4 linked regions of the Homo sapiens genome follow. The protein of the gene in region 1 interacts with the protein of each later gene in a biochemical or structural test. Each region holds a gene or a part of one and is shown in the gene's direction. Other genes may lie near its edges. The genes, in order: IFIH1, RNF125, USP3 and ZCCHC3.

What was found.
Region 2: of the proteins of IFIH1 (region 1) and RNF125, one has a biochemical effect on the other in vitro, tested with the Homo sapiens proteins (one study listed by BioGRID).
Region 3: of the proteins of IFIH1 (region 1) and USP3, one has a biochemical effect on the other in vitro, tested with the Homo sapiens proteins (one study listed by BioGRID).
Region 4: the proteins of IFIH1 (region 1) and ZCCHC3 form a complex in vitro, tested with the Homo sapiens proteins (one study listed by BioGRID).

Annotation. Positions count from the first base shown.
Region 1 is NC_000002.12:162,315,680-162,323,184, reverse strand, and holds the start of IFIH1 (interferon-induced helicase C domain-containing protein 1), read left to right. Parts: upstream 1-4,500; 5' UTR 4,501-4,877; coding exon 4,878-5,330; intron 5,331-7,505. Other genes in the region: GCA (grancalcin), read right to left, coding at 3,946-4,050.
Region 2 is NC_000018.10:32,070,792-32,073,724, forward strand, and holds the end of RNF125 (E3 ubiquitin-protein ligase RNF125), read left to right. Parts: 3' UTR 1-2,428; downstream 2,429-2,933. UniProt on the Homo sapiens protein: E3 ubiquitin-protein ligase that mediates ubiquitination and subsequent proteasomal degradation of target proteins, such as RIGI, MAVS/IPS1, IFIH1/MDA5, JAK1 and p53/TP53.
Region 3 is NC_000015.10:63,500,742-63,507,594, forward strand, and holds the start of USP3 (ubiquitin carboxyl-terminal hydrolase 3), read left to right. Parts: upstream 1-3,851; 5' UTR 3,852-3,998; coding exon 3,999-4,089; intron 4,090-4,976; exon of another isoform or gene 4,977-4,995; intron 4,996-6,853. UniProt on the Homo sapiens protein: Deubiquitinase that plays a role in several cellular processes including transcriptional regulation, cell cycle progression or innate immunity.
Region 4 is NC_000020.11:293,283-300,588, forward strand, and holds ZCCHC3 (zinc finger CCHC domain-containing protein 3), read left to right. Parts: upstream 1-4,287; 5' UTR 4,288-4,304; coding exon 4,305-5,516; 3' UTR 5,517-7,039; downstream 7,040-7,306.

The DNA of each region.
Region 1 (7,505 bases):
AACACATGAAAAAATGCTCACCATCACTGGCCATCAGAGAAATGCAAATCAAAACCACAATGAGATACCATCTCACACCAGTTAGAATGGCAATCATTAAAAAGTCAGGAAACAACAGGTGATGGAGAGGATGTGGAGAAATAGGAACACTTTTGCACTGTTGGTGGGACTGTAAACTAGTTCAACCATTGTGGAAGTCAGTGTGGTGATTCCTCAGGGATCTAGAACTAGAAATACCATTTGACCCAGCCATCCCATTACTGGGTATATACTCAAAGGACTATAAATCTTGCTGCTATAAAGACACATGCACATGTATGTTTATTGTGGCATTATTCACAATAGCAAAGACTTGGAACCAACCCAAATGTCCAACAGTGATAGACTGGATTAAGAAAATGTGGCACACATACACCATGGAATACTATGCAGCCATAAAAAATGATGAGTTCATGTCCTTTGTAGGGACATGGATGAAATTGGAAATCATCATTCTCAGTAAACTATCGCAAGAACAAAAAACCAAACACCGCATATTCTCACTCATAGGTGGGAATTGAACAATGCGAACACATGGACACAGGAAGGAGAACATCACACTCTGGGGACTGTTGTGGGGTGGGGGGAGGGGGGAGGGATAGCATTGGTAGATATACCTAATGCTAGATGACGAGTTAGTGGGTGCAGCGCACCAGCATGACACATGTATACATATGTAACCAACCTGCACATTGTGCACATGTACCCTAAAACTTAAAGTATAATAATAAATAAATAAATAAATAAATAAATAAATAAAGTAAAATAAAACAATTACAATCTAGCCTTTGAGGTAAAAGTACTGTTTTTCACAAAAACATTTGCAGGTAACTGTTTTTGAAAAGACTTTAAGCTATGGAAGGAGTACTTGAAAAATGAATGTTCCAAAACTTATCTATTGATACGTGACTTTCATTTTTTGCCAAAACTGCTATGTAGAAAAGTTTTTATATGTGAAAACTTAAAAACCAGAATTTTAATTGAATTGGTGAAAGTGATTAGGAAATTATTATCAAGATTTAGTGAACTTAGCCATAATTTTTTTTCTATTTTAGGCTTACTACTATTTTTGAAATAAAAAGCTACGACAGTATCCTTTTAATAAACTTTCCTGCTAAATCAGCCTATCAGTTTCAGTTAAATGGCTGAAAGTCTTGCTTAAAGTCTCAGTTAAATGGCTAGCTATTATATAGTGTTTATATGTATGTGTGTATATATATATATATATATATATATATATATATATATATATATATATATATGTAACTAAATTTTTCCTTTATAAATTGTGCATTCTTTGAAGACTAGCACCGCACCATCTCTTCTTTAATTTTTATATAAGCGTAGTGGGCTGGAGTCACATATTGGGCACATAAACATGCCAGGCTGGTGCTAGTGTGTTACAGTCTATCCTTAGAACAAACTTCTGACATGATACCAGAATCTTTCCATTTTACAACTGATGTATTTGAGGTGATTTTTCAAAGCACAGCAATTAAGAAATAGTATTGAGATGTGAACTCAGACAGCCTGAACTCAGAGTCTCTGTGCTTAACCATACCCCACACTGCCAGGTTAAGAGCATCTAACACTTTAAATTACACAAAGCAGGCTCATTATTGATACAAATGAGCAAACAAGTAAAGGAACAGAACAACAATTCCAGGGTTTCTCACTAAACTAAAATTATTGTCATTTTCTTTGAAAAAGACATTATTGCTATGCATGGTCGTTAAATTGTAGTGGCAGCTCATATTGTTACTACTTCTTAAAAACTCAAATGAAAAGTTGCATAACAATGGGAAAATACATAGTTCAGCAGGATCTCCTGCCTCAAAAGAGAAAGGAAAAAGAAACTTACATTTGGGAACTGGTGAAAAGGATTAAAATGAAACCTAGTAGAAGAAACTTGACAGAGGAAAACAATTAATTACTCAAGTGAAAAACAGAAAATAAACTAAATCATGATGCAAAAAATATAGATGAAAAAAGGATACATTGTGAGAGATTGTGTCTTGGCTTTTGTTTCCTTAACCTCCTTTCTCCAAAAAGGGTCCCATCAAGACTATGGGAGATTCCTAAAAAAGAAGTCCCTTCCACCCACACCTAATCCTCATCACTCAGACCTCATCCAGCAGAGAGACTCCTACTTGTGAGAAAATATGAATTGTTATTGTTGGGTATTATGTGATGCTAATAGGGTTAGAGGAGGATGACTATTTGGGAAATCAACCTGTGAAACTGTAATATACATTATTATGTAGATTTACTATGGTCTTCAGGGCATTTATCCTCACCTGCACATTGCATATTTTTTAGTCATTACTTACCATCTATCTTCCCACTCCCATTAGAATGTGAACTCCATAAAAGTAGGAGCTTTGTTAATTTTATTAACTGCACCTAGATCAGTGCTGGTCATGTAATAGATACTTAATAAACATATTTTAAATGACTAGATGATACAATGAATGATATAATTTGAATGCCAAATATTTAAATATCTTTGGTTTAAATGTTTATTATTTGAGAACAGGTCAAATACCAAACATTTGATCCTTTCTCTTCCAGAGCAACAATTAAGTGGTATGAAGAAAATAACATTAACTGGTTCCCCATATTCAGTCAGCAACCCCTTCTCATTCCCCCATGTTTGAAACCAAGAAACAGAAGGATAAGTGCCAGGAAAAAGAATGTTTTTTGGTTTGTTAGTTTGTGCTTTAACATGTTGAATAAAACCCACTGGCAGCTGGGGGATAGGAGTATGTTTTTGCAACAGCCTTAAAAGATATTTTCATAGACCCAATACTTAAAATTAATAATTTGAGTGCTTTTGTAGAAACATCTAATTGGATTATCCTCTATCTGGGTACAAGGTCATCTCCCAAAATTAAGTGAAAAAGGAGTAGGGTTCTGTGAAGAAACAGAAAAGAACAGTATAAATCAGGCCTACCTGCAAGCCCAAGGTTTCATTTACTTCAACTTTCAGTGTATTTAACATTATGCCAGCTGCTATGGTCAACTCAAATACAACTCCCAGGAGAGATGTCATCAAGAGCCCACCAGTTGTGAGTAGTGTACTAGTTACTATGTAAATATATCCCTTCTTCAAGCAGCTTACAATCCTTCAGGGGTAGAAAAAGCCTTGCTACATAAGATAATTAGAGAATAAAATAAGACATGTTACCATAAAGTGCTCATTTGGATATTTTGTATGCCCCTAGTAAACACTCACCAAGACTCTGTACTTCTATTATCCTGTTCAAAGCACTATCAGGTTTTCCTGGCCTACACAGACTTTATTGAATGTACTTTGCTAACAGATTATTTTTCCTAAATATGTCTCTTTGATAACCTAAATGATCTCTCCATCCTTTATATAATTCTGGACCATGAGATTCTAGTTATGGTGCGTATGTGCCTACCACCCACAGTCACATGTGGCTACAGAATGCCTTCAGAATGAGTAGTAACCTTAAGGACTCACATTTATGTGGCTTCTGTACCAAAATGAAGCTGCCATTTTTCAGTGTGAATATGTTTTTTTTCTCTCATGACATAGACAAATGTTGATGTTTACTACAAGTTGGTACATTAGTTGCTAATTAAGTTCCTAGCTGCTCCAGCCAAAACTTGCTGTATTGAATCCAAGAAAAGAATGGCAGCTATATCAAAAATAAGTTGTTGGGGGATTTTTTTGTTTTGTTTTATTAAAGGAAAGTTGTATATTAAAGAATATAGGGAACTTACAAGCTGGGATCTAGGAAACTTTAAGTCTTGGCTTCCTTCTAAGCTGAGTTGGTGGTTCAAGTCCATCCACATCTGTTACCAGGTCCTGGTCAAAGCTGCATAAATACCAGCAATCTAAATATGAGGCAGTAAAGTTAACTGTTTATTGTTACTCACTTTTTCGAACCCACCTCCAAATTCCCAGGGAAACAAGTTAGTGTTTGGGAACCCACAGGAGGTCAGGTTTATTTTAGGAAGGACTTCCTCCTGTCTTCTCCACATCTCTGCAAAGATGTCTTCTGAGCTTCATCTCTCACCTGTCCCTCGCAGTCTCACCACCCTCAGCCAGGCCTGCCTACATTCACCAGCCGAGGGTAACTCCCTGTTCACGTCCGGGTCTGTGGCAGTTTCTGTTCACTTCCCCTTTGGAAAGTCCCAAATCACATGCTTTTATGCCCTGCACATTTTGGCCTACAAAGGACCTTATTGTTAAGGCAGAACCTGCTGGGAAAACAAAATATCCGCCGGAGGAGCTTTGCTAGAGCGTTGGTCTTGGTGTCAGAGAGAATTCGCTTTCCTTTTCTGTTTCCCGCGGTGTCCTTAACCAAAGGCCTCCTCTCTTCACCCGCCCCGACCAAAAGGTGGCGTCTCCCTGAGGAAACTCCCTCCCCGCCAGGCAGATTACGTTTACAAAGTCCTGAGAAGAGAATCGAAACAGAAACCAAAGTCAGGCAAACTCTGTAAGAACTGCCTGACAGAAAGCTGGACTCAAAGCTCCTACCCGAGTGTGCAGCAGGATCGCCCCGGTCCGGGACCCCAGGCGCACACCGCAGAGTCCAAAGTGCCGCGCCTGCCGGCCGCACCTGCCTGCCGCGGCCCCGCGCGCCGCCCCGCTGCCCACCTGCCCGCCTGCCCACCTGCCCAGGTGCGAGTGCAGCCCCGCGCGCCGGCCTGAGAGCCCTGTGGACAACCTCGTCATTGTCAGGCACAGAGCGGTAGACCCTGCTTCTCTAAGTGGGCAGCGGACAGCGGCACGCACATTTCACCTGTCCCGCAGACAACAGCACCATCTGCTTGGGAGAACCCTCTCCCTTCTCTGAGAAAGAAAGATGTCGAATGGGTATTCCACAGACGAGAATTTCCGCTATCTCATCTCGTGCTTCAGGGCCAGGGTGAAAATGTACATCCAGGTGGAGCCTGTGCTGGACTACCTGACCTTTCTGCCTGCAGAGGTGAAGGAGCAGATTCAGAGGACAGTCGCCACCTCCGGGAACATGCAGGCAGTTGAACTGCTGCTGAGCACCTTGGAGAAGGGAGTCTGGCACCTTGGTTGGACTCGGGAATTCGTGGAGGCCCTCCGGAGAACCGGCAGCCCTCTGGCCGCCCGCTACATGAACCCTGAGCTCACGGACTTGCCCTCTCCATCGTTTGAGAACGCTCATGATGAATATCTCCAACTGCTGAACCTCCTTCAGCCCACTCTGGTGGACAAGCTTCTAGTTAGAGACGTCTTGGATAAGTGCATGGAGGAGGAACTGTTGACAATTGAAGACAGAAACCGGGTAGGTGTCTGTTCAGATGGAGCTAGCCTTTTAGGCAGATTTTGCAAAGCAGGCTTCCTTGTGCGTTTGCCCCTTTCCAAATGTGCTTGACCTCTTTGGGCAAATCTAGTTTCTTCCTTTGAGAAGACAACATCTAGGCACTTTAAGACAATTTTAAAAATTTAAACACAAAAGAACTACTTTTCTAATGTTTTCACTGAAGTAAAAAGGAGTTAACTCTAGAATCGTAATGTGTATTAACAGGTAACTTTTATTGAACACTTACTATGTGCAGTTGGTATCATTTTCAAAATGTATTACTACAGTTCATGTTCAGAGTAACCCACTGAGGCTCCTAATGTTATTAACTCCATTTTACAGATGAGAAACCTGAGGCAGGTTAAATAATTTGTCCAAGGTCTCCCAGGAAAAACAGTGGCAGAGCTAAGAATTTAGCTTGTGATAGTGTTGAATGTTTTTCTTATTTAATGTAGTTCCATGGAGCAGGGGTTAGTAAACTACGGCCCATGGGCTAAATCAAGCCTGCTACTGTTTTTTTCAGGCCCACAGGCTAAGAATGGTCTTCAGATTTTTCAATTTTTAATTTTCAGTGTTCATAAAGTTTTATTGGAACACAGTCATGCTCGTTTGTTTACATATTGCTTGTGGCTGCTTTTCTACTCCAAAGGCAATTGGATGGAGACTGTGTGCCCTTAAAGCCAAAAATATTTATTATCTGGCATTTTAGAGAAAAAGTTTTCCAATCTTTGCCCTACATTACACTTTGTGCCATTTAGTCTTAGCCCAAATGGGTAAATTGCAATCACACACACACACACACACACACACACACACACACCCTTTTTCTTTAATCAAAGTTTCAACATTCTTTGAGAATCAAAATTTAGAAACAATTCATTGAAAGAATGTGTTGCTAGTTTCAGTTTTTCATGTTAGTGAAGAAACTCATTTTTCTTAAGGTAGCATTTTGACAGGGCGAATTTTACTGATGACTTTACATTGAATGTGATATGAATTATTTTTTGATAAGTGAAGATGTACTGTGATGTGTATAAATGCTGACCTGTTTGAATGTGACTTATTCAGGCTCGTAAGTCAAAAGTCTTGTTTTGGAAGACATGTAGACAAATAAAGCCATGACTAAAAGTCAAAGGCTTTGTCTACACCACTCTATGATTTTCACATGGTTTTTTTCTCTCTCTCTCTTTTGGGTCATCCATTGTTTGTATATTCATACAAACTTCTGGGCATTTGATTGATTTGCTATAGCCTATGATGCAATTTAGTCTTTAGTGAATAAAGTTAGTGATCTTTTGTAGACTTGACAGACACAGGGCCTGTCCAAAGACCCAAACATGCATCTAATTTTGATGGCCAGTTTTCCCAACAAGTAAATTACTTTGCACTGTTGTCTGTAATGTTTATGTCGTTTTGTGTATTGAGAACCAGCTAGAACGCATTATAGTAGTCCAGCTGGATATGACAAATGTGTACATCACTGTGGCAGAATCTTAATTTGGAAGAAAGTATGCAGCCTTCAAGCCAGCTGGAGATGGAAGATGGCATTTCCAGCCACAGTAGCTGTTAGAAGTCCAGAAGCAACAGAGTCCAGTAACACCACAAAGCTGTTTATGTTTGGTGGGTATGATGTCCCGATTGCCAGCGAAACAGCACTTCTCCCTATTTACTCTAAATACTTCTGCCTATCAGCATCACTTTTGTCTTGCCTGGATTGAATTTCCGCCAGCTAGATTTTATCCAAGTTCTTGATTCTGGCAAGCTTGGAGGCAGCTAGCAGTAATGCAAGGGATTTGACACAAAGAAGATATAGAGTAACGGGACTTTTGTGTACTGGTAGCAGTTAAGGCCAAAACAACCCAAATTCTCCCTCTGATTCACATTTCAAAGGAGGCCCCAAAAGACTGAGCAGCTATAAATTTGAGGCTCTCTAGGAAGCAATAGTTTCTCTGTGAGAGTGTGGAATAATTTTTGTGTGCATCATTTACATGTATTATCAGTTCCAAAACTAAGATATGGTGGACAATGAGACGGAAGCATTAAGTTTGGTAGAATAATCTATATTGAGGTGGTGGTCATTGACAAATGTTTATCTTACAGCAGCAAAGTGTGATAAGACTGTAGAAGGGGAACACATGGATTTGAGGTCCATCTTGG
Region 2 (2,933 bases), on another chromosome or scaffold:
CCTCCTGGATTCAAGCAATTCTCCTGCCTCAGCTTCCCGAGTAGCTGGGATTATAGGCATGCGCCACCACGCCCTGCTAATTTTGTATTTTTAGTAGAGTCAGGATTTCTCCACATTGGTCAGGCTGGCCTCAAACTCTCGACCTCAGGTGATCCGCCTGCCTCGGCCTCCCAAAGTGCTGGGATTACAGGTGTGAGCCACTGCGCCCGACATCCCAATTTTTAAAATAGTTATACTATGTCAACATTTTCAGAACATACTGGTATAGCATACTGTACTTTCTTCCTTTTATCCCCCATTTATTCTTAGTTCTTCAACTATATATTTAACACTTGCCCCCAGTTTTGTTTTGTTTTGTTTTGAGGAGGAATCTTGCTCTGTTGCCCAGGCTGGAGTGCAGTGGTGTGATCTTGGCTCACTGCAACCTCCGCCTCCCGGGTTCAAGTGATTCTCCTGCCTCAGCCTCTCGAGTAGCTGGGATTACAAGTGGGCACCACCACACCCGGCTAATTGTTGTATTTTTAGTAGAGATGGGTTTTGCCATGTTGGCCAGGCTGGTTTTGAACTCCTGACCTCAAGTGATCCACCTGTGTTGGCCTCCTAAAGTACTGGGATTACAGGTGTGTGCCACCGCGCCAGGCAATTGCCCCCAGTTTTTATTTGATGGCTCTGACTGTTTCTCATATCTGACTCTTTAATTATGAATCCAGGGCATAGATTAGTATCTCCATCTTGTAAGGATGCAAAGAAGCCATGAAAATAAGTAATATCAACTCCTGAGGATAAAACGTTACTTGACTAGAGTTAGCTTTTTAATTGTAATCATTTATAAACTTCTTTGTTCCTTACATATAAGCATAGTCATAACCATGGTACCCAAAATTTTCTATAAGTTATTGTAACTCCTTAAAGGTCTTGCTACAGTTCTTTTATCCAGTACAAATAATTGGGAAAATGTAAAGCTGAATGAAATCTAGTGAGCCTCATATCCTCCCTTTTAGATATTGATTTTAAGTTTGCTTTTCACAGCTGCTAAAAAGTAACAACTGATTTTTAGTTCCACAACCTCTCTTTCTTCAATTTAGATGGATCATACAATAAAGCAAAATCTGGCTGGTTACAGTGGCTCACACCTATAATCCCAGCACTTTGGGAGGCTGAGGTGGAGGGTCTCATGAGCCCAGGAGTTCAAGACCAACCTGGGCAATATAGTGAGACTCTTTCTATTTAAACAAAAACAAAAACAAACAAACAAACAAACAAAAAGCTGGGCATGATGCACACCTTTAGTTTCAGCTACTAAGGAGGCTGAGGTTGGAGGATCACTTGAGCCTAGGAGGTCAACACTGCAGTGAGCTATGATCATGCTACTGCCCTCCAGCCTGGGCAACAGAGCAAGACCCTGTCTCCAAAAACATAAATAATTAAATATAAATAAAAATAAAGCAAAATCTGTTGGGAAACGAGAAAAAGGAGAGGAATTTTTCAGGAATAATCATAAAAAGAAATGATCATCAGACTGAAAGTCCAGAGCCTGAGAAATGAAAACATATTTTTAAGCATTGGTGTTGACCATGCAGACAAACTTTTGTTAATTCAGAGCGATACAAAAGGCACTTTGAATCTATAAAACTTGAAAAAGTTAAAAATTGTATGTCGGATAAAGCTTTAAGTCATCTGTCACTATTAACCTCAGTGCAGCAATTCTGACTCCTGTGCCTGGATTCCTTTTATGATAATTTTGCCACCTACAGGACAGATTAGGTGCTGGTCGCCTGAATTATTTTGTGTTCTGAATTATTTTGAGCTCTAAAATGGTAAAGTACAAATACTCATTGTTTTACTGTGCCTTTGGCCTTTTATAAAAAGGTATTTATAATTCGTTGATAAAAACCAATATTTGAAGCTGTTGATTACCAACAAAAAAGTTTCACTCTCTTTATAGTGCTTCAGGATACAACTTTTTCAGGGCCTTATTAGAGAAAAACTGATTCACATGTTATTCTTCTAAAGCTAAATTATTAAAATGTAGGTTGAAAGATTGGATTGATTGTGAATCTACACTAAAGATATGGTTCCAGGCAGACCTCCTTAGAGACCTCCAGGCAGACCTCCTTACTGTCTTCAGTGATGTTTAATTTCATTACTGTTACTGGGTGCCAAGTGTCTTTCATTTGGAAGTGAACTTACTCCAGTTATTGAATGTTTATCATATCATAATTTGCATTTTTCCAACATTGAAGGTATTTTAAAAAGTCACTAAGAGATTCATTCTTTTATTATTCAACTACAAAAAAATAGTGTAATGATCAGAATTTAAAATGTGTGATTCTTTTTCTTCTGTAAGTATGTATTGCTATGATAAATAAAAAATGGCAGGACCATTGTTTTTATTAAAATATCTACTGTGTCTATTCTTAAACATTAATCTTGATTACTATTTTACTCAAATTTAATAATGCTTTTTAAATTTTCATCATTGAGCAACATCTATCACAAAGGTGTACATTCATTTAGGCCAGTACTTCTCAACTGGGGGTAATTTTGTCTCCCAGCAGACATTGGCAATGTCTAGATACATTTTGGGTTGTCCTAACAGGGCTTGGGTGTGCTAGTGGCCTGAGATCTAGATACAGGTCAGGGATGCTGTTCAGCATTCTACAGTGCACAAGACAGCCCCTTGCAACAAAGAATTATCCTGCGCAAAATGGCAATAGTGCCTAGGCTTAGAAACTCTGATTTGGTCAACATAATACTGAGCACTATGGATTTATTATTTGTTCTGCTAGCAAGAGGCTTCACTGAAATTTAAAAGGTAAGATGTAGATAGATTCTTCCCCCTGCTAAATCCATACTAAGTTTTGAATGGCTGTAGCTGTCATGCGTACCCATATGTCATGAGCATATTAATTTTTTGATTTTTTGCAAGAACA
Region 3 (6,853 bases), on another chromosome or scaffold:
AGTGAGAGCTGGGTGGTTGGAGCCCACACCCACCCCTCTCCATTTATTTAGTCATTCAACAAATAGTTACTGAGGGCCTGCCACCTACCAGGCTGTATTCCAGGGGCTGGAAATCAGGCAACCAACAGCACTGGCAAGATCTTTGTTCTCATGGAGACTGACAATAGATAAGCAAGTAAACATGCAAGGAAATATTAGATAGGTGCCACTAGGAAAATTAAACCAGGCAACAGAAGAGTCTCTGAGCGGCAGCGGCCCATTCCCTGCCCCCAACACTTACCAAGCCTCCTCTTGATATAACTTTGGTTTCCCAAGGAGGCGTTGCTCCTAGAACAATCTCTATGGTAAATATTAATAATTAAGCCATCTCTCGGAGTGTTTCCAATGAGCCTTCCCTGGGTGAGGATAGTCAGAGCTAGTTTTCCCCAGGGCCTGGTCTGCCTTGTAATTGTTGGTTAAGGACCATCAATTCTGCCAAAAGTCCTAAGTTTAAGGTTTTAGGAAAATCGCGGCAACCTTGAGACCTTTCCTGAAGTGGTTCCCCTGCAATATATGACCTTGCCCTCCCCTCACTACCGACCCCACTTCCATGTATATACACAATTATCCTTTAGGAGAGAAACATTTGATAGTACGGTTGCAATTTTGCATTCCTCCCCTTTGAAAAATGCAAACTTTTAGAACAGGCCCGCCGCTTCGGGCAGGTTTTGCCGCGGAAACCACCCTCCCTCCCCGCCCCCGGATGTCCAGAGGGCTGGGTGGGGAATCCCGGGAGCAGCGCACTCAAGAGCACGGGAGCTGGAGGCTGGAGGCTGGCTCGTCACCATCAGGGCTCCCTGGGATGTAAGTCAGAGCTCCTCAGTGCCAGAGGGATGCGGGCCAAGAATAAAAACGCGAATGTTGTATTAAATGCAGCTGAAGAAACGAGGGACTGAAAAGGCAGATTTCCCAGTGTGCCTCATGGTCTTCCCCCATTTGACTCATTTACTCACTGCGGGTTTCTTTTTCTCCACTCTTTTCTTATTATGGAAACTTTCAAAGACACAGGAAAGTTCACTATTTTAGGGAAATCTAGCAAACGCCCCAGGAGGGCCTCTCTGATTTTGCCCAACTTCTCTGGACTGCCTGATAGAGCTTGCCCTCTGGGGACTATCACAATCGGGACTAAATTAGGGCCCCTGCTCCCAAGGGTTTTTATTCTAGCTGGGGAGAGAAGTCACTAATGGAAACTTTTTTTTCCCTTAAAATAGCTTACACCTTACAAAGCACTTTCACATTCCTGATTCCGTTAAAATCATAAAGCTAGAACTGAAAGGAAATTTAGAGATCATCTCTAGGGGTCAAATATTGGCAAATATTGGGCCACCTGCTAGGCTCTTGCCCATGGTAGACATGGCTAACATACCGCACACTCACCCGTTCATGTCATGTATTCACTTACTTATCAGACATCCTCCATGTTCTACATTGCATGTTAGAAATAAAGCAGAAAACCAGACAGACTTGTTTGCTACCTTATGGACAAACAAGAGGAAGAGAGACATTAAACAAATAATTACACGCATGAAGAGTGTTTTTAGGCCGGGCGCGGTGACTCATGCCCGTAATCCTAGCACTTTGGGAGGCCTAGGCGGGAGGATCTCTTGAGCCCAGGATTTCGAGACCAGCCTGGGCAATATAGGAGACACTGTTTTTTTTTTTGTTTTGTTTTTTGTTTTAAGTGTTTTTAAAAGCCGGTGTTGGGGCAGACAAGGACATCACACACTGGGAGGTACCCTGCGGGTGGGAAAGGGTCGGGAAAGACTCCCTCAGGAAGTGATGTTTAAACTGAAGTCTAGGGGATTAGGAAACGGAGTCTCTGAGAGGGTGAAGAAATATTACATACCAGTATGAAGCATGGCCTGAGTGAGGTCATGCTCCAGGGCCGAACAAGGGGTTATGGATGCTAAGTGGGGGTGGGTGTCCGGAGGAAACAGAAGGTTGGTGGAGCAAGGCCTTAAAGACAAATAGGTTGACATGGAGAGATGGGTGGAAGAACTTGAGCCAAGGGCAGATATTATTGTTTCTCCTCCTCCCGCTTCCCAGGGAAGCAGCTCTCATCTAGTGTCAGTAAAAACAAATACAAAGTTATAATTTATTGGCCACCTAGTATGTGGTGGCAATTTTCATGAATTCTCACATGTTCCTTGCGAGACAAGTATTCTTCTTCCAGTTTTACAGATCTAGAAAAGGCTTGGAACGGCTAGAGACGCTTGCTAAGCCTGGCCGTCAAGTAGGCAGCAGAGCTAAGATTTGAAAGCATGCCGGCCTGCCTTCCTAGGCAGACGCACTTTCCACAACGCATCACTGCCATAAAAATCCCAGGCCGAGGCTTGCTCTAACAGCAAATACCACTTGGAAAAGGACAGATCTTTGAGGACCCAGAAATACTTCTGGGGAAAGGATGAGCAGAGGTGCCCCCGGTGGGTGGATACCATTAGGCAGAGGTCTATGCGGAAGAGGCCGACTTGTGGCGTGGGAGGTAGGGAGGAGTAAGAAGTGATTGACGGGGCGTCCCTGGCTGCTCTAGGACTGCATTGCGGGGAGGTGCCCGGCTCTAACCACTGCCCGGCCCGGTTAATCATTTCCTGACCTTCCTTCCTCCTCTCGCTCTGGCCGCAGGATTGCCACATCAGTCTTCCCCCTCCTCCTGCTCGCCTTCTGGCCCCGAGGCTCCTTCGCCGGGTTTTACAAGGAGCCCCAACTTGGAAGCAATATTTGTAATAGCCCCGGACGTCCTCAAGTGCCCCAGTGAGATCGCAGGCTCGATCCAGGGTATGCCGGCCCAAGCGGCCCCTTGAGGCTTGCCCTCTTCTCTAATCCCTCACTAAAAAGAGGTCAGAGGGTCAGGGATCCAATCTCCATACAGATCAACAAGTTACAGACTCGGTTTCCCCCTGCGGTAAAAAGGGGATGGTAACAGCTGGTAGGGTGTTGCGAGGCTTAAATGCGGTATGGGAAGTGCCTGGCTGGGAGACCTTAGGTATCTAACAAATGCTAGATCCCTTCCCTTCTTATCGCCTGGTAATGGGGAGTTTAGCTTGCCCAGCAATCCCAGGCTACGTTTATCTCACTTGAACTTCCTGGCTTGAAAGTCCTACGATGTGCTGGAGGTAACGCAGATGGTGAGTCACAGTGACAGGATTTGAACGTGGGTTCATGGGCGCCCCTGCGGGCCCACCCACGCAGCATCTAGGTGGCTGGCTAACGCCACGTGTTCAGAACCTAGAAAGGGCTACGGATCGCACCTGCCGCAAGGAGCCTAACGCTAAGTCGGGCGGGACTGCCCTGGCACCCATGAAACCCGCTGCCCGCCTCCCCCGGGGCCAGGCCCTTGGCCTCCCCAGCTTGTTTCTTCGTGTATAAAATGAGGGCCACGGTGCCTGTCTGCCCGAGAGGTTTTAAAGTTCTTCTTTACACTTTGCGGAGCGGCCGGATTTTTACCACGAAGCCACCGAGTAGTCCGCACCACATAGGTTCAGTATCCTCCGCCCACCGCAGGAAACGCCGCGGACGGCCCGGGGTGCCCTGCTCGGCGCCCCACCCTTCCCGGGGCCGGGGAAGCGGCGTGACTAGGAAAGTCACTTCGGAACACAGCCGGACTCTGCGCCACCAGCTGGAGCTCGCCGGGACCCCACCCCGCGGGCTGGGCGGGGGCGGACCCGGGGGCGGGGCGGGGAGGGGCCGGCCTGGAAAGGCGGAAGCCTCCAGTCTAGGGGTGGCTGCAGAACCCGGATCTCGGAGTTACACGTTCTACGGAGCGGGGCGCCGGGAGACGGCGGGCGAGAAAACCCGGCGTCCGGAAGCCCGTGCTTTCTTTGACGCAAGGGCTCGAGACGCAGCCGCCGTCGGCCGAGCGCCCGGCTAGAAGCGACACCAGACGGAGCCTCCGGAGTTCCTCCGCCCCCACCTCGCCGGGTCCTGGAGCCGCAGTCCTCCCAGCTGCCCTCCTCGTGGCCATGGAGTGTCCACACCTGAGCTCCAGCGTCTGCATTGCTCCGGACTCAGCCAAGTTCCCCAACGGCTCCCCGTCGTCCTGGTGCTGCAGCGGTGAGTGCGGCCACGGGCCGGCCCCGCAGCGCACCCGAGGCCGCGGCTCTGCCGGGCCTGCCGTCTAGGGGCCGCAGGCGGCCGGCGCGCGGACTCGGGGAGGGGCGAGGGCGAGCCGGGCCCGGCGGGCTGGGGAGGGTACGCGATGAGGCGGGCGCGTGCGGGAGCGGCGGCGGCTCCTTTGTTTCCCGAGGCCCGACGGCCGGGCCAGCGAAGGAGAGGGCCGCGAGGGGCGGGAGTCCGCGGAGGCCTCGAGCGCGTGGGGGCAGCGGCAGGCGGGGACCCTGGCCAGCTGCGTGCGCCCTTGCCCCGCCCTGCCGTGGCCGGGGGCTGTGCCCGTCCGTGTTGCGGGGTCGCCTGTGGGGCGGGTGTCCGGCCCCCGAGGGGCGGCCGCACGTGTGGCGGGGCCCGCGCCGCGCTTCTCCGCAGACAGGGCGGGAAGAGCGCCGCTCTCCGGGCGCAGCTTTGTCTGGGCTGCGGGGCGCGCGGGGCTCCTCTCCTCCGCCGAACCCGGCCCGGGTTTCCTTTCCCTTCTCCGCAGGCTCGGGCACCTCGAAACCCCGAGAGGCGCTGGGAGCTCGGGCGGCGGAGGTCGGGGTCTTTCATCCGTCAGGGATGGTGAAGTTTGAAAACAGGCTGCGGGCTGAGAAGCTCGGAGGCTGAGCCAACAGCTGCTTTGGAGGGGACTGCTCGAGTTTGTTTTTCAGACCTTTTGGGTTGTCCGAAAATGCGTTGGGATTCCCAGTTCCTGTGTTGTGAAACACTTATTAGATTTATATAAGGCTTTTGAGTAGCTTAAGCGTTTTAACTCCTGCTGGCCCCCTTGGAAGCCCCAGTGCCCTCTCATTGTCTGCTCTAAGCGACTTCTTAGGATCGCACCGGCCACACGGCTTTGCTTACTTCCTGGTAGGGCCCTGGTGCCACCGCTAGTCTTTGTTTATTAGCTTTGAGATGGTCACTGGTATCTTGGGTTATATTAATAGCGTACAATTCGAATTGTGCACTTCAGAAATCTGAAGTTCATTTGAAGAAATATAGAAAAACGGCAATGGTATGATTTAGCTGTGACATGTCTCATTGTGGGCCGGAGCTGGGAAGATAGTTTAGAGAATGCCTTAGCACTTTTGACAGCTTACTACTTAAATAGTGATTATGTTCTTGGAAACAACATCGGTAGGTCCACAAAGAAAAATGTACTCTGGGATAAGGAATAGAAATAACTGCGGTTTCCTGGCGCGCTCAGACGTCTGATGCTTTGCTTGCCTTTGTAAAGTCAGGTATCTTTTTCTGCATGAAGCCTTTGAAAATTAACGGTTAATTGGTTTCACAGAGCAGTATTGCAGTTCTTTTGTGAGGATGCAGAAACTTGTGTAAATTAGCTTTTACCTGTAAATCTGTCGGGATGTTGAGTATAGAACAACAAATAAGGTGTATGGCACTGCTTTACAAATTGGTTGGTGGTGGTACATTAGCTATAACTGTAGCCATTGCTGTGGTGCTATAATTGTAACTTAATTTTTTTCCCAAAAGAAATTTGAAGAAAAAAAAAAAGACCAAAGTAAACACTAGGAGAAGCCTACCTCACAGGGAATGGTGGGATTGCTCTTGCTCATCTGTAGTAAACTACAGAAAGACAACATGGACAATTAGCACACTTCTGGCATTTTTTAGGTAAAATCACATCAAACTTAAAAATGGCTTCACTGGGCACATACATCTAAAAAATGGAAAAGAACTGTGCAAGTGGCAGATGCCCTCTTGTGAGTCAGTCTTGCCTCTGTCAGTCAGGGAGTCCACTTGACTGTGAAAAAGAGATGCAGGAAATTGAGCATCTCTTGAGGAACTTAATAAGTTAAAATGGAGCATAACGAGATGTGCTGATAACAAGAATAAACTAGTATGTGGGGTGATTTCTGTTCAAGGGGTAGGATGACATCTTTGCATCTTGCAACAAAGTGTGTCTGACATATAGCTTTGCAAGCCTGGGTCTAGTCACTTACTTGGATTTGTAGAACCAATAAAGCGAGTTTCGCAACTTTGTGTGAGTCCACACTCTGAATTGAACCCATTTTATGTAGGCCTCCCGTCTTAACCCGTTGGCATCCATTTGTTGATATAATCTAGCGTTATTGTATTAAGCTTGATCTTGTTCTTGCGTGCCTGTCGTTTCAGTGATTAAATGATGAATCTGTGAGTCCTTAACTAACTCATTATCTTGGAGTGTTATATAGTCGTATTTTTTTTCTCCCACACTCTTGATTTTATTTTATTTTTGTTTTTTTCATAGGGGACCAAAAGGGTAGCCGATGTGTTGACTAATACTGTGACTGGGTATTGAATCTGATTATGTTCTTATTAAGGAGGGGAAAATCCCTGTTTTGGCACTGGGACAATAAAAGTAATGCCCTTGCCTTATTTTCTTTGCGAGTTTGCAATTATACCACGGTAAGACAGCCAAGCAAATTGCAAAATGCCACAACATTCTAGGTTCTACCAGTTAGCAGTACCTAATTGGACAAATAGTTCTATTTTCTTTGAGTATCAGTTTCCTTATATAATCTGCAAAGAAAAGGGTAATACTTTGCATTTACTTCACAGGTTGCTGTTAGGATGAACAAGGTAATTTTTTGTGAAAACTTTGAGAAACTTGTATACACTGTTCTAGTAATAGGTGGTATTAGAGGTCAGAACATCTTTGTAAAGAGGACTCTGAATAATTAAATATCCAAAGCCCATTAAATGGGGACTAGAACAGACTGGCTTT
Region 4 (7,306 bases), on another chromosome or scaffold:
TAGCACTGTTGAGCCATTAAATTAACCAACCCTAGCCTGGCACAATAGTATGTGCCTGTAATACCAGCTACTTGGGAAGCTGACGCAGGAGCATCGCTTGAGGCCAGGCATTTGAGATCAGTCTGGGCAACATAGTGAGACCACATCTCAGAAAAAAAAAATTTTGTTTTAATTAGCCAGATGTGATGATGTGCACCTGTAGTCTCAGCTACTTGGGAGGCTGTGGTGGGAGGATTGCTTGAGCCCATGAGTTTGAGACTGCAGTGAGCTATGATTGTGCCACTGCACGCCAGTCTGGGCAACAGAGTAAGATTCTGTCTCTAAAAGAAATTAATTAATTAAATTAACCTTTCACCTATCTAGAAAATACTTGAGATTAAATAAGAAATCACATTACTGGGTGAGCAAATTTGAGTTGAGTTTTCTGGTACTTGCAGACCAAAAGCATTTTACTGAACCCTACGTCTGGAGGAACAACAAGATAGAAGGAACCTGGGTGGGTCCCTGACAACCTTGCAGGAGAAAGTCACCTACCTGTCCTTACTGCCTGCCAAATTCCGAGCTGCTTCATCAAAGAGAAATAAACCTCCACCTTGTCTGAGACCCTGTATTTGAGAGTCCCTTTGTTACAGTAGCTTAACCTGTACCTTGATTAATACAAAGAAGAGCTTGGCCACTGTCAGACAGCCTTCCTCATCAGACATGCTGACCCAGCATGGACACCCACTGAGAGCTGCCTGTGCCCCACATCTCAGGTACTTAACCAGTAATATTACTGCCTCCCACTTCAATTTTTTTTTGTTTTTGAGACAGAGTTTCGCTCTTGTTGCCCAGACTGGAGTGCAATGGCATGATCTTGGCTCACCACAACCTCTGCCTCCCGGGTTCAAGTGATTCTCCTGCCTCAGCCTCTCGAGTAGCTGGGACTACAGGCATGCGCCACCACAACCGGCTAATTTTGTATTTTTAGTTGAGACGGGGTTTCTCTATGTTGCTCAAGCTGGTCTCGAACTCCTAACTTCAGGTGACCCGCCCGCCTTGGCCTCCCAAAGTGCTGGGATTACAGGTGTGAGCCACCGCACCTGGCCCCACTTCAAATTTTTAAAAAAAATACATAAAAACATTTGCAAAAATGCTGCCATCTTAATCAAAGCCAAAACACACTTGAGGGGCCACTGACAATCACCTGTAACAAAGCTGTTGGAACTGGGATTGAATCAGATGGGGTCCATTTGCACTTACACCTGTTCAGGTGGCATTTCTGTGTTCACGAACACCTGATGGAACTTCCTGCCCCCAGGATAGGTGGGCAAGATGAGCTGGCCTTTCCTCCCTGCACATGTGAGGTGATAAATGTGATAGAGGGCCTCTCAGGCCTGCTTGGCTCCAGGCTCAGCAATGGCAACCTGGGCTCTGATTCCATCAACATCTTGCTGAGAGGTGGACTAGGCTGAGCAGGCAGTCTCGGGCTTCCATCCATGTCATTTGATGTGCTGGCTTTGTGGCAAATGTGCACAGCATCCTAAACCCACAATCCCTACTGTTGTCACTGGGTAAGATGCCGTGGTTCTTGTGGAGACACCTGCTATACTCGACATAACAAGATCCTAGACATTCCTTCTTATCATCTGCACAGCCCTCCAGAGCTGCTCTCTCCATACGGCCTCAGTGCCCATCCGGACTGCTCTCCTTGCAGGGTACCTGCCTGGCCCCTGTAGCTCCTGATGTAATAATCTCTGCAAAATTTGACCTGGAAAAAATGAAACTGACCAAAAGGATGGCCCTACACATACCAATGAAATTGTACAACAGAAGAAGATATGATTAGCAAAATTGGACATGGAGCCAGAACCTAATCCACAAGTCAAATATTTTCAAAATACAGACAGATGCCTTTAAAGTCCAACACAAAACAAAAATGCTCAAAATACGTTGATTATATGAGAGTTCCTGACTAGTGCAGTAAGACAAGAAAAAGTATAAGATTTGAAAAAAGAGACAAAACCTTCATTATTCACAGACGATATGATTGGCAATACAGAAAAGTAAAGAGATTCCAAAAACCACTGGAAATTTTTTAAGGTTTCAACTTTGTTGCCAGATATGGGGTCAGTACACAAAATTCAATCGTGTTTCCTCTAACGGACACCAACAAACCATATGTAACTTCTGATTTACAATAATTTCACTTACAATAGCAGTCAAACCACGTGGTACTTTGGAATAAATCCCCAAAAGTATGTAAGACCTTTATGAAGAAAACTATAATATTTTATTGAAATTCATAAAATAAGGCCTAAATAAGTGAGAAATCAAGTGGGGTCATTGATGGAAAGACTCCGTGTTATAAAGTGGTAATTCTGTACAAATGCAGTGCAACGCCAATTAAGATCTCATAGTTTCCTGGAACTTAGTAGGCAGGTTGTGAAATTTATATGGAGGTTCCAAATATAGCTGAGACCATCTTAAAGAAGACGAAAGAGAGAGAAGAATGTTTCCCATAAAAGAAGAAACTGGAGTTCAGATTTCTCTTTGGAAACTGAAAGATCCCCCCACAGTGGACCCTCACTTCTGGAGAGGAATATTCAGCTACAGTTGACTAGCAGTTGCCCCTTCAGATAGAATATTCGATCTCCAGTTCACCCAGTATATCTTCTACTTAAGGCACCTGCCTGACCCTTGCAGATATTTGATTATGTGATAGTTACCTGGAGTGAGGGCTTAAGATAAGAGGAATGGAAGAGATTGTTTAAAATACATCTATTGTTTGGTTGTGTAAGTATTCTCCTCATGGTGAAACTTGACCAGGCAAGTAGAAAGAATAACAGAGAAGTATGTGAATCTAAGACATTGATGTTTCTGGTAATGGTGAAGTTCCGAGTATGATCACGGGAATGCGTGGCTGAGAAGGGATAAAGGAAATGGTGCCTGAGGATATAAAGTGAGAGGACTGGAAAGTGCAAACGGCCCAAGTCAGTGGCTCCCCTGAGACCAATACCAGCAGTTGGGATGAAGGGAATCTGCCTGTTAACAAGGTTTCCTAGGATCTGATGCACAGTTCTTGATCCACGGCGTCAGAAATAAAGTGGTTAAATAAATATAAGCTACCGGCCGGGCGCGGTGGCTCACGCCTGTAACCCCAGCACTTTGGGAGGCCGAGGCGGGCGATCACGAGGTCAGGAGATCGAGACCATCCTGGCTAACACGGTGAAATCCCGTCTCTACTAAAAATACAAAAAATTAGCCAGGCGTGGTGGCGGGCGCCTGTAGTCCCAGCTACTCAGGAGGCCGAGGCAGGAGAATGGCGTGAACCCGGGAGGCGGAGCCTGCAGTGAGCCGAGATTGAGCCACTGCACTCCAGCCTGGGCGACAGACCAAGAGTCCGTCTCAAAAAAGAAAGAAAGAAAGAAATATAAGCTACCTATACGTGGGGCTGCCTATTAACTCCGCCAAGTGACTTAACTCCTGCCTCTTTATCTGTAAAATGGGCATAATTACAGCATTGTTTTTGGAAGATTCCATGTAATAAAGTCTGAAGTGTGCTTAACACAGTACTGGGAACTTAAGCAGCACTCACACTTCATCCTAAATACGACGAAAGTCTTTTCAAAAAAATAAAAATTAATGCAATATGACTTACTTGGAAATGTATCAAAAAATAAAGACCGATGAATGGATCGAGGCGTAGTGTGACAGAGTAAAATTTTAATGATAAAAAGTTAATGGTAAAATGTTCACTGTAAAACTTTCAACTTTTCTTCTTGAAAACGTGCATAATCCGACGTGGGAAAAAAAATAACGCATTGCAGTCAGTTCTGGGGAAACGGAAAGCTAAGTTTTAATTTTGCTATTGCTTTTGCTTTTTTAACAGAAAAGGTACAAAAAAGAAAAAATGGGAGAGATGTTGCCGAACTCCGTCCCGCCTGTGGGCTGTGGGCCGTTAGCAAAGCTGCTAGCATGAAATCGTCGAGCACCGCTTGCGAAACGCCAAATCCTCGAGAGCGAGGCCGGAGGCTGCCAAACCCGCGCTGGGGAAAGGGCCGCCTCCGGGCGCCCCATCCCGCTGCGGACGGAGGTGAGGTTGGAGCGAGCGCTGGCGGAAGAGAGGCTCAGCGCAGGGGGCGCAGAGCCGGCGCTGGCCAATATGCGCCGCATGTGATACCTTTGAGGGCGCGGCGGGGGAGGGTAGCGTCAAATTTCAAAAAAAAAAAAAAACCAAACCCACACAGCCCCGGCGGGCGGGCGCGCGCGATGGGCGCCCTTTGGCTGCGGGAGCGAGTGGAGGATGCTGGGAAGGAGGTAAAATGGCCACCGGCGGCGGCGCGGAGGAAGAGAGGAAACGGGGGCGGCCGCAGCTTCTGCCCCCCGCGCGGCCCGCGGCCCGGGGCGAGGAGGCCGACGGCGGCCGCGAGAAGATGGGCTGGGCCCAGGTGGTGAAGAATCTAGCCGAGAAGAAGGGCGAATTCCGCGAGCCGCGGCCGCCGCGGCGGGAGGAGGAAAGCGGCGGCGGTGGAGGGAGCGCCGGGCTCGGCGGCCCCGCGGGCCTGGCGGCGCCGGACCTCGGCGACTTCCCACCGGCTGGCCGCGGGGATCCGAAGGGCCGTCGGAGAGATCCGGCCGGCGAGGCGGTGGACCCCCGCAAAAAGAAGGGCGCTGCGGAGGCGGGCAGGAGGAAGAAGGCCGAGGCGGCGGCGGCCGCCATGGCGACCCCGGCCAGGCCCGGCGAGGCCGAGGACGCGGCCGAGCGGCCCCTCCAGGATGAGCCGGCGGCGGCGGCAGGCCCGGGCAAGGGTCGCTTCCTCGTCCGCATCTGTTTCCAGGGAGACGAGGGCGCCTGCCCGACCCGGGACTTCGTGGTAGGAGCGCTTATCCTGCGCTCCATCGGCATGGACCCGAGCGACATCTACGCGGTCATCCAGATCCCGGGCAGCCGCGAATTCGACGTGAGCTTCCGCTCAGCGGAGAAGCTGGCCCTGTTCCTACGCGTCTACGAGGAGAAGCGGGAGCAGGAGGACTGCTGGGAGAACTTTGTGGTGCTGGGGCGGAGCAAGTCCAGCTTGAAGACGCTCTTCATCCTCTTCCGGAACGAGACGGTGGACGTGGAGGACATTGTGACTTGGCTCAAGCGCCACTGCGACGTGCTGGCCGTGCCGGTGAAAGTGACCGACAGGTTTGGGATCTGGACCGGGGAGTACAAATGCGAGATCGAGCTGCGCCAGGGGGAGGGCGGGGTCAGGCACTTGCCAGGGGCCTTCTTCCTGGGGGCCGAGAGGGGCTACAGCTGGTACAAGGGGCAGCCCAAGACATGCTTTAAATGTGGTTCCCGGACCCACATGAGCGGCAGCTGCACGCAGGACAGGTGCTTCAGGTGCGGGGAGGAGGGGCACCTGAGCCCTTACTGCCGGAAGGGCATCGTGTGCAACCTCTGTGGCAAGCGAGGACACGCCTTTGCCCAGTGTCCCAAAGCAGTGCACAATTCCGTGGCAGCTCAGCTAACCGGCGTGGCCGGGCACTAAACACCCGCCTGCCTGCCAGGGTGAACACACAGCCAGCTTATCCCTCTTAAGTGCCAAAACTTTTTTTTAAACCATTTTTTATCGTTTTTGAAGGAGATCTTTTTAAAACCTACAAGAGACATCTCTCTATGCCTTCTTAAACCGAGTTTACTCCATTTCAGCCTGTTCTGAATTGGTGACTCTGTCACCAATAACGACTGCGGAGAACTGTAGCGTGCAGATGTGTTGCCCCTCCCTTTTAAAATTTTATTTTCGTTTTTCTATTGGGTATTTGTTTTGTTTCTTGTACTTTTTCTCTCTCTCCTTGCCCCCCTCCCGCCCTCCCCGCCCCATACCTTTTCTTCCCCTGGATTTTCACCCTTTGGGCTGCCTTGCTCATCTTTATGCCCCAGCACTAGGTACGGGGCCCAACACGTGGTAGGCACTCCATCAGTGTTTGCTGAATTGAAAACATTGTTGACTGTGGCTTCTATCAGAGTGTCTACCTTTTGCAGCTCTTCCCCTCCCTCATTTAATTTGCTGCTTTTAATCTACGTGGTCTGAGAATTTGTGAAACCAGTGTTGTTAGAAGTGTATATAATCTGAATCAATAAGCTCTGAATGGTGGCCAAGGGCCTCTCTTATGGCACAAAGATGCATGGACTTCATGACAGCTCTTTTGGTGGCTCAGAAGCCATTTTTTATAGAATCATGGAATCTAGAATATTCCTGCTGGAAAGAACCTGAGAGTTGGTTTGGACCAATTCCCTGGTTTTCCAGCAGATGAAACAGGCCCAAAGAGGTTAAATGACTGGGTGAAAATCACATAGCTGTCTGGTGCCAGAGCCAGCCTATAGTAGAGTCCCCTGACCCCAAGCCCGGTGCTCATTCCACTACCTCTCACACTTCACAACAATTTCCTCAACACTTGAGGGCCCAGAAAGTCTGATCTCTCCAGAATGATCAGCCCAGAGGAATGCTGAGAAATCACCTGGAGGAGGGAGCAGAAAGAGAAGGTTTTTAAGGAGGGGCTTCTGAATACTTGGGAGATACGGAACGGACCAAGGACCACACTCCAGGGTGCATTCGTTGCTCCCTGGGGCACCACTTCTGGATTACAGTGTGCCAGGTCCTTTGGAGGCCCTACCCCTTCCCCATTCATTGCCACCAGTGAGAAATGGGGGTGCCCCTGTGTAAAGAAACCTACCAAAGGTTTACATTTGCACCTTAGCCTCAATAGCTACGAACCCTAGAGAAGCAGCTAGCTGGAGCTCATGTGCAACTCCTGATTCTCAGGAGAAAGATGGATTTTAACCCAAAATTATGAGTGAGCTGTTAACTCTAAAATGTACTTGGGAGATAGGCCAAGCGAGAGGTCATGGGCCAACTAAGTGTTATCCAGTAGAAAAGACAGTACACTGCTTTTCTTTTAGTGTTTGCTTTTCCTTTGCTATATGTTTTGCTATTTCCTTGTGGCTTAGAATGTAAAATTGATTGTTAAAAGTTTTGTTCTGAATAAATATTTATCTTTTGTATTGCTAAAACTGGTGCACTATTTCCTTTCAAAGTGTTAGATGCACAGTTACCCAGCTCCAGACCGTATTTCAATCCCACTTCCCCTACACTCCATTTGTTTACCTTGCTAAATACATTTCCCACCCCTGCAGGCAACACTTAGCACCTACTACGTTGTGCCGGTCCCTTTGCATCACAATCAGCACACTGTTAAAACGGGTTTTAAGTCCTAACACAGTTCCAATAAATCAGAATCACTGTTAGAGGAAGTGAAACATTTTAGTTAATCATCCTCA